Regions from separate parts of the Homo sapiens genome. Here regions 1 and 2 are each reported to be linked to region 3. The links are microRNA targets in miRTarBase. Many come from high-throughput screens and were not tested one by one. Region 3 holds a microRNA gene; each other region holds the end of a gene's coding sequence.
Evidence for each region. Region 3 holds the annotated microRNA hsa-miR-1249-5p (AGGAGGGAGGAGAUGGGCCAAGUU, at 1,195-1,218, opposite strand). A microRNA usually pairs through its seed, bases 2 to 8, with sites in the 3' UTR of a target mRNA and lowers its output. Matches are read on the target gene's strand: a 7mer-m8 pairs with bases 2 to 8, a 7mer-A1 pairs with bases 2 to 7 and ends in A, and an 8mer does both.

Region 1: miRTarBase lists IER5 as a target of hsa-miR-1249-5p. Seed matches in the 3' UTR shown: 7mer-m8 at 2,405-2,411.
Region 2: the mRNA of EDA2R is a reported target of hsa-miR-1249-5p. Seed matches in the 3' UTR shown: 7mer-m8 at 914-920.

Annotation. Positions count from the first base shown.
Region 1 is chr1:181,089,585-181,092,834 of GRCh38, reverse strand. IER5 (immediate early response 5) reads right to left here. Exons shown (of 1, transcript NM_016545.5): 1 at 1-3,250. The coding sequence ends at 2,949. Among named protein-coding and RNA genes, the nearest start is that of IER5, 2.5 kb to the right of the region's middle. RefSeq lists silencers at 2,328-2,622, 3,197-3,250 and an enhancer at 2,637-2,806.
Region 2 is chrX:66,596,759-66,600,008 of GRCh38, forward strand. It overlaps EDA2R (ectodysplasin A2 receptor), which reads right to left. Exons shown (of 7, transcript NM_021783.5): 6 at 2,716-3,102; 7 at 1-1,335. The coding sequence ends at 2,726. Among named protein-coding and RNA genes, the nearest start is that of EDA2R, 41 kb to the right of the region's middle.
Region 3 is chr22:45,199,799-45,203,048 of GRCh38, forward strand. MIR1249 (microRNA 1249) reads right to left here and starts at 1,221; the gene lies at 1,156-1,221. KIAA0930 reads right to left here. Exons shown (of 10, transcript NM_001009880.2): 7 at 3,192-3,250; 8 at 75-237. RefSeq lists an enhancer at 2,529-2,673 and a cis regulatory region at 2,601.

The DNA of each region.
Region 1 (3,250 bases), not on the chromosome of region 3:
TGTATCTGATTTATACACAGAATTAACTTCTACATTAACAATAATTAACAGTTGCGTGCTTATTACATATGAGGTACTCTTCTAAGAGCATTAACTCATTAATTTTCACAACCCTATGAGACAGATCCAATTATCCCAATTTTACATTTGAAAAACCTGAGGCACAGAGAGATGAAGTAACTTGTCCAAGGACCCACAGCTAGGTGGCAGAGCCAAGATAGAAAAACCCAAGCAGGCCAGGTTGTGGTGGCTCATGCCTGTAATCCCAGCACTTTGGGAGGCTGAGGCAGGAGGATTGCTTGAGGCCAGGAGTTCAAGACGAACCTGGTCAACATAGCTCACTTTATATTTACTTTTTATAATTAAATAAATAAATAAATAAAGGAAGACACCAAGCAGCCTGGCTCCAGGGCCCATGCTCTAACTACTATACTATACTGCTTCTGCAACAAAAAAGAGAATGATCTTTTCTAATTCCTACAAAGCTTTATCCTCCTATCAAGTATGCCAATTTACATTCTTTAAGCAGACACATGGACCCAGGTTCATCTTAATGTAAAACCAAGGATCAACTTTAGTCTCATCCAAAACACATCAGCTCTCTTAAACACACCAAACGTTACCCCCTTTAAAACATAAAATACACTGAGATCGCTGTTCAAGCATCATACTTTCTAACAACAGGAAATGTTTGCAGAATTAAGGCCCTGGACACCTTCTTCAGTTTAAGCAGTCAGCACTTGATGGATCTTTTGTAGCTGTAACAGAATTTAAGTAGCTACTTTCTGAAAGAAAAAGTCAGTTTAACAAGACCCTAATTTGAGAATGTTTAATTCTATAAATACATTATTATGGCGACAGAGCATAAAGTACAAAGTTCCCTATGCTTAAGGAACCACTAATAGATTTGCCGAAATATCAAGGCACGAGGCACTGGCCTATTCAGCTAAAACAGAAGTTCGTATAATTGGGAGTTAAGGCCAAGACACCATTCATATGCCTCTTATGCTCGAAGGCTATGACCTTTAAACCTTTGTCTTTCTTCAATCTCTCCCATCTTTTAAATACCCTATATACTCGTAAGTTGTTAGAAACCAGTACCATCTTTTAAAGTCCTGGCAACTGTACCGTATTTTAATAAACACCATTCCCTAATTGATTTGCTTCTGAAATAGATTACTGAATACCTTTCAAACATTGAACATGAAGAGACAAAAAACTCTCTTAATGGCAGTGATTTTAGTAAAATCGATGGATGTTTTGGCTATCATCACCTAAGTGTCTACCATGACCAAACACTGATGTCACCATTTAAGTAACAAAACAAATCAGGAAGTTTTGCTAAATGAGAACTAAATTTGCCTAGCCCTCCTTCCTTATCTGGTTTGATGCAAACAATTTCCCTCTCAGCAATATATTTACTTTCTAGATGTAAGAGAAAAACTGAAAATTTACATCCTGACATCCACTGTGATGCAGAGGTGGACCTGACAATTTGGACAAGTCAGTCTCTTTCATCTTCCTATGTCAGTTCGAATGGGCTTTTAAGGTAAACTACTATCTAAACTTTTTTTTTTTCAATTACAAAGCTAAAAGATGACCCGTATTAATAGCTTAACAGGAAACAAAGTTTTGCTGAAAAACATTTTTGTGGATAAGCGGGGCTTCAAAAGTTGGTTAAATTACTTAGTATTAGACACCCACATATTGGGTGACAAATTGGTCTAAACTGACCTTAGAAAAGGCAGTTGTAGTGGCAGGTTTCTAGAACCTGACAGGTCGCCGATATTAGTATCTAATAGCAGTCCTCTGATCTAGGAGGAAAAATTAAACGTGTCTCTCTTGATACTTAGTGGAGTCAGTAAACAATGTCCTCAGTCTGCGAATGACTGATACTAAGAACCACACCTTCAATTTTCTAGCTCAGGCCCTGGTTTCCCTCCTCCCACTTCCCTCCCAACCCAGGCAGGTTATTACAGACAAGCAGGCAGTTACGTTGCTTCAAAATATTTAATACGTGTTAGACACGTAGAAGTTACATTTTTATACAAAAATCAATACAACGAAGGAGAAAATACTGTACAAAAACCTTATCAGCTCCCCCAACCTTTATACAACAAAGACTGGAGTCACCATATCTACAAAACCATAAGGTCTTTCCACTTCGGGCTTCTGTCTGTAAACTCTCATTAAACACTTTTTAAAAGCACTGTGTAGTACTTCTGACCTAGAGCTTTTAAAAATATATCTTTTCTCTATAAACTCCATTATTTCCAAGCTTGAACTCTTCTGTGAAGTTCGTCAAGCTTTTTCTCCCCTGCGGGGAAGCAAAGGACCGTTAATACGCCCCTTTCCTAGAGTAATCACAGGATATAAACGTTTCTTCATTGGGAGAGAAAGGTGGGGAGGGACAGAAGGAATCCAAGTCTGTGCTCTTGGCTAAATCCCTCTCGTCTTAGGAAATCCTGTGCGGAAACGCCACTCCTGGCCCTGAAGCGGGTCTAGCTTTCCGGTGAGGGGTAGGTGTAAAGTCCCTCCCTCCCCGGAGAACGAATGGGGAACTCCCCGGCCCAAACCTTTTAGCCGCTTCCTTCTCCACGCAGCCGGCAGAGGAAAGTCCCTGTCTGCCCCCAATCTCTTAAACCCTGGGGAAGGAGTGGTGCATTCCAGAAGAGCAAAATAGTCTTAATGCCACAAGACAAACTTACATACACAGACATACACAAACACAAAAGTTAACGATCGTCCTCTTCCAATGAGCCTCAAGCTCCCAGGTCTCCAGATAAGCCAGATGCGCCCGGGGGCAGTTTGCGATGCCCAGAGGCAACCAGTCTGCCCAACGCGCTCAGCGCCCGCGGTCTCTGGGCGTCCTCGCAGCCGGGAAGGGCCTGGCCCTCACTTCGGGGACGCCCGCTGCTCCACCTCCTCCCCGCAGGGGGGCCAAGGGCTCAGAAGGCCACGATGGCTGTGCTCCAGGGGTTCATGTCTCTCAGCACCGGCTTATCGCAGCAGATCTGCCCGGGCTCGGCGGCTTCCGGACCGCTCTCCTCTCCCTCCTCTTCCTCTCTGCCGCCCCCGGGGCTTTTCCGTAGGAGTCCCGAGAAACTGGAACCGAAGATGCTGATGAGGTTAGCCACGTTCCCGGTCTCCATCTCCTCCGCGTCGTCGTCCTCTCCTCCACTCGGCGGCTGCTCTAAGTTCCGGCGGGGCTTCTTGAGCGGGGTCGAGCCGGGCGCCGGGCAGCCCGCTG
Region 2 (3,250 bases), not on the chromosome of region 3:
AAACAAAAAAAAAACAGGAAACCTAAAGGCCAAGGCCTAAAACCTTGGTTACCACATATTTGCTAATACCTGTGTGGGGCCAGGCTGCTTGCTTGGTACAGGCTTGTATTTCAATTGCTTCTAATCCTCAGTCCAGTACAATGGGACCTTTTTGCTTTTTCCCAAGTCCTTTTAGTAATCTGATCAATTGGTTGCCCCAGGGGCCCTTAATCAGTGTTTGTAGATGGATGAACCCAAAAGATGTAGTTAATAAAATTCTAAAAGCAAAAATCTTGCTGTAGACAGCACTCCTTTGCCAGAGCTAGAACCTGGTGATGAAGTGCACATTCTGCCTAATGTACTTAATAAACCACTTAATAGTTGTGGGACAGGAACTAGCTGTACAAGTTTCAGACAGATTCTTGGAGAATAAAGAATACAACCTCTAAGGAACTTGTTTTTCTCTGAGCATGAGATGTATAGGTGGGAGCTAAAGGCAAAAAGACAATTGAGAAAGAATCAAAGGGGAACGGTGGTGAGAAAGCTGGGATTGAATTGACATTTCAATAGAAAGAGGCATACTCAGATGTCCCTACATGGATTGAGGGCTGTCTTTGAGGGACTGCTGTGGGGTAGTTTGGGGAACTCAGGCCCCAGAAGGAAGATTACTTTGGCTCAGAAATGTTCTGTAAGGTTCCAAAATGGCGAACTTCAGCCCTTCTCCCTGCTGAGGGTGGTGAGAACCTCAAATACAGGGTGAGGCCCCAGGGATCTAGAGGGAAAGTGTTTGCCCTGCCTCATGCTGCAATGCAGCAGTCTGAGACATGAACTTGGGAATTATGGCACGAGGCCTCCCCCAAGATAGATATTAATGTGTGTGTGTGTGTTTGTGTGTCTATGTATATGTGTGTGTATGTGTGTGTGTGTGTGTTGAGGAGGGAGACAGTGTGGAGGAGCTAAAAGGGGAGAAGGGTTTGATTTTGTCCCTAAAGTGCTAGGTAGATGTGCCAACACAATTTTGAGAGGCTTACCTGACCAAAAATGCAGACATGAAAACCCTACCCCATTCACTGTCCTCTCTCCTCTTCTCTATAATCAAGTTGAGCTAGGAACATGTCTGGTAGTCCCATGAATGTGGAATCTGGCTCCCCAGACTACAAAAGGGAAGCAAGAAATGCTCCAGATCAGTCCTTGTGAAATGGAGAATCAATCCTCTGGTGGGATGGGATAGGATATGCCCCATCTGTAGGGTATTAGCTCTTGTGGACATCACATTTCAGGCCCCTGCTGCTGTTGTGGTATAGGAACAGAGTCCAGAGAGAACAACTGGGCAAGGCTGCCAGGGGCCCAAGAGACCTAAGGAGAGAGCAAACCAAGTTAGAAACATGTGGGGAAATCTCACTAGCACCCTTCTTTCTCTACCCCTCCAAATATCATAGGTTAAGCCAATGGTTGAGGATGTAATAGCAGAAAGACATTACCTAGATAGGGATATGACAATTCTACCCTATTCTACATTGTTGAAACCATTTATCCTGAAGATAGGTTTAGTTCTAAGCTCCACATACTTTAGAAGAACCTAAAGTGGTATTCTCCAGAGAGGTGGTGTTGTCTTCAAGCCTCTGCAGGGCTATCTTAAAGCAGAGGAAACTGATGAGGTCTGTCTGGCACGAGGAACAGAGCCAGGATGGATAGGCGGGTACTACAGGGAAAGCTCTTTCTTACATTGAGCTCAAACCCACCAGTCACAATTGTGTATACTGTAATATACATTGAGAAGTAGTCAGCCCTCTGCCACCTAAAGTATGTGAGCAAGGACTACACAAACTCTTAGTGGGGATATTATAAAATGGACCCAAACCTTGGAAGAAGAACTGGACTAGATAACCTTGAAGGTACCTAAGTTGATTGATTTGACATCAGTTATAACTTTCAAATTTGATATCAGTTATGACTTTCAAATATACATTTGTTCACGTTTTCTTAGGTTGGATGCAGGGAGCAGGGAAGTCATTGGGAGAACTGAAAATGTATTAACTGAAGAAATACGGAAGTGGGCACTGCAAGATATTTGGTTAGTTGAAAACTGGGAATCTACCTACTCTCCTACCTCATGCTACATAAGCTTTGAGAAAGTAACATTGGCTATCAAATGGTTGCAATGGTGGAGTTGAACCAACTCTAAAATGTAGCCCCCAAACCTGGGTTCTTGCACAGTTCTAGCCCACTAATTTGCCCTGTGACTTTGAGAAACTAACTTTCCCTCTCTGTGTCTCAGTTCCTGCCTCTGTAAAATGTAAAATGAAGTGACATACACACAAGGTTTGTATAGTTATTAGGGAATGAAGGTTGATTTGAAATGTAGGGTTTCCAGATGACAAGGCTTGTATATCTTTTTCTACTGTGCTATGCTGCTTGCACACATAAAGGGAGATACCTGAATATGACCATTAGATAGTGGGGCCCTGAGAGAGCTTACGAAAGACCAGAATGGAGAGACTGGTATCATGACAACCTTGCCAGTTCCCTGACAATTGTAGACCCAGAAGTGTGATATCTGTCTGGCTTAAAAGTTTAGCATCACCACTGTTGCCCCTCCACCCAAAGTGTTCCTAGCTTGCTGCTGTTCCTCCACTCCTAGTGAATAATACTATTCCAAAAGAGAATTCCTTGAGGTTAGTCCTTAATTTCTGTTTTGCTTTTTTTGTTTTTTTCTGATCCACCTTTCCAGCTCACCTCATTAGAGTTAAGGGCTGGGAACTTCAAAGGGCACATTGAGCTCCAGCCTGTCTCCAGTGCTTTCGACTGTGTTTCCCCCCAAGGTCTCAGCTCCAGTATAGGAGGCAGAGCTGGAAAACTTTTGCAGGTCCAGCTCTGTGCATTCGATGGGGCTGTGGACCCAGTGGGAGTGGCTCTCTGAGGTGCAGGAGGCCATGGTAAAGGACTCCTGTGTGGGGAAGCCACTAGTCGAGCTGCAGTCGTCCTCGAGGATAGGGTTAAGTGGCTGGGTCTGAAAGATGTTCTCACTCACTTGGGACTCAGCACTGGTCTCCTTGCTGGGTGGCACGGGGAAGAGAGATTCCTCCTTTGCTGTTTTATCAGCCTCAAACTGCAGCAAACCTCCTGCAACTCGAAGCAGAAAGCCACTGGGTTACCCAAAAGCAGGGGCTCTTCTCAGCTGGGCACTGGGTACTGAGTACAAGACAGGTAAAGGTCTGGGAGCTGATTCTTTCCTTCCTCTCCCTGGGGTCTAGAGCACCTAGCACCAGGC
Region 3 (3,250 bases):
TGAATGAATGACTGGTCTGGATCAAGAAGAGACTGAAGGGCACGGGGACCCTAGGGCACGGAGTGGGGGGTCACCTCCACCGTCGTCCTCCCGGAAGAACTCCTCGCTGTCGTTGGCCGAGTGCGACTTCTTCATCTCAGCGATCCGGTTCCGGGGCACCTTCCTCTTGAGGGATGGGGAGAAGAAGGCAGGCCGGTTGTTCCGTTCTGGGGTGGGGGGTGTGCTGAAGGAGGTCACCTGGGAACAAGCAGCCAAAGTCACCAGAGTAGCAGAACAGCCCCCTCCCCGGGGGTCCCAACGCCCCTCCTATCCCACCCTCAAACAACCTGACACAGCTCCCAGGGAAGAGGCCGCTGGCCCAGGAGGACCCAGGCCCAGCCGGCCCGTGCTAGGTGGGGCCTAGAGACTGGAAGATGCGTTCCAGCCCAGGGGCCAGCAGGACACCTGGCCACCAGTGCTACCCGAGGAGGGGCCAGGCTGCTGCCGCAAATGGCAGAAAGACCCCCCTCCTCTGGGCCTCAAACAGTGGGTAGGGGGTGTTCAAGCACAAAGTAACAACAGCTGCTGACGCTGAGTGAGCACTGGCCCCACACACAGACCCTCTGAGCCTCCAGCTCCGTGAGACAGGGGCTAGCGTCAGCCCATCTGACACATGGGGAAACTAAGGCAGGGACCGAGACCCTGGCTTGCCTGTGGTCACCAAGCAGGACGGCAGCAGCCCTGTCTTCTGTCCCCCAGGGCCACGCTCCTCATCCTACTTCTCAGGGCTGACGTGGCCCCATCCCTCTCATTCCCAGCACCCTTCACAGGAAATACTGTGCTAAGTAGCTCTATGCCTCTGTCTTCTCCCCACTTCTAATCACGTTTGGTTCTGTTCACCAAACATTCACACCCACTCAGGGCCAGGCAGGCACAGCACTAAGGACAGACAGGCACATTGCAGGTCCCTGCCCTCAAGGAGCTCACAGTCTGCTGGGGTGACAGACTCAGAGAGTGACAACCATAGACAGCATGCTGGCTGTGGAGACAGAGAAAGAGAAGCACAGGATACATGAAGCACAGAGGCAAAAGGGATCCACAGCCTGGGAAATCAGGGAAGGCTTCCTGGAGGAGATGCCGCTGGAGCTGGGTCTTGAAGGACGAGTAGGAGTTCGCCAGGTGAAGAAGGGGGGGAAGGGCGTTCCAGCCAGAGGGAACTTGGCCCATCTCCTCCCTCCTCCCCATGCCAACAATAATCTGAGGAGCAGGATGAGCTGGGACTGAGACTTCGGGAGCCCCGTCAGCCTCCTCGTCACGGCTCCGACATCCACCAAAGTCCTGGCAGCTGCTGGGCTCCAGACGGTGTTCCCACAAGCCGGGGAAGGTTTTTAAAAGATAAAAGAAACAAACAGCAGCAACCACAATACACAGAGTCAGCATGTGTCACGCACTGGCTCCAGACGACCCCGCCAGAGAAGGAGACAGGTAATAGCAGGCGCACAGGCGGCAGTCCCCAGGGGCCAGCCCTGCTGCTGACCCTGTGTGACCCTAGCACATCCCTCCTCCTGAATCCCAGGGCTGCCCAGCTGCTAAGGCACCAGGGACTTTCACACCCCTCACAGCCACTCCCGCTGGACAGATGGGAAAACCAAGGCTCAGGCAGGTCTAGTGACCTGTAGTCACTCAGCCCTCAGGCTGTGGCTGGAGGTGGCACCCGGGTTTGTCCAGCCCAGAGCTCGGGCCACATCTTCGTAAGGACTTTCACACACACATTTTGTCAGAGTCCCAGGGCATAATTTAGGACCAGGGAGAAGAACCAGGCCCTTTATCTCGGAAACAAACTCAGAAATATAAACCACCTCATTCCAAAGACAAGAGAGGCCCCTGCCTGGAATTCTCACCCATCTTTGCAAAAAATAGCACTTGCTGTCTTTGGCTTGCAAAACACATTCATTGCAGAAGATACCTCCCCCCCAAAAAAAGATATACAGAAGAGAAAGAAAACCAACATCTGACCACCCGGAGATATGCATGATTCAGATCTTTCTCGAACTAAAAGTATAACAAACGCACACTCCCTCATCTCAGGCATGCCTGCGGTAATGCATCGTTTACATTCCCACGCCTCTGCTTTCCAAGTAGGTCAACAGCAACTACTGCAGCTGCCACCTGGGAATCCTCCTGAGGGCCAAGCCCCGGATTCCTCAAAGCCTCCCAAATACTGAAGGAGCAGGTATCCTCGTGCCCTGTTTCTAGATGAGAAAACTGAGGCTTGGAGAGGAAAAGAGACACACCCAAGGTTATGAGAGCAGCAGAGCAGGATTCTGGCTGTGGGTGGCGTCTCTCCTGGACAATGGCTGGGCAAGACTGCCCCTGGACCTGTGCCAAGGGCACCCCCCTGCCCAGCACACCTGTACTCTTCCAAGAACTACAGCTCTGGGCAGTCCCTCTGGAAGAACCAGGTAGAGCAAAGCAGCCAGTGGGCTGGAGACCTTCTCCTGCCTGTGCCCCACCAAAGGCTTCTGGGAACAAAGCTGCTGCTGACCTCAGCCTCCCGCCCTGGGGAAGGAGAGTGGCCTAGGCAGAGCAGGGCCCCAAGCCCAGTGCTATCCCAAGAGACCTTGTGACCTGGGGCAAGCTGGCAAGTCTGGTTTCCGGCTGTGCGAGGCAGGAACGCCTCTCCTGCAGCAGAACCTCCTACAAACCGCGGGGCAAAGAGCTGGGTGGCCTAGGCCTCTGCATGCGCTGGCTGACCCTCAGTCACCATCATCCCCATCTGACTCACCGGGGAAGGCCGGCCACGTGCCCACGCTCACCCAGCAGGTCCACCCAGGCAGGCGCCAGGGCCGGGCCTGGGTCCCCAGCCAGTCTCTTCTGCCCACTGGCTCTGTGGACTCAGCCTGGCTTTGTGGCATCTCAGGGAGGCAGAAAGAGCTCTGGCCCAGCACCAGCCTGCGGTGTGACCTTGGCCAGGCACAGCCCTCCAGGTCTGCAAGGCAGGAACGCCTCCCCTGCGGCAGTGCCTCCTACAAACCGCTAGGCAAAGAGAAGGGCTGGGTGGTCCGGGCCTCCGCACGCTCGGCACCTCGGCCTGCGCACTGGTGGTTGGGGATGACAACACCTATGTCCCCAGGGGGCCGTGAGCACGGGGGAGACGGTGGAAAGTGAACTTGACGGATGGGAGCCCCCGCCCCCAGCTGTGCAGCCCTTACCCGCTCGTGCATGGGCGAAGCTGGGCTGGAGTCCTCTTCAGTCCCACAGGGGGATGTGT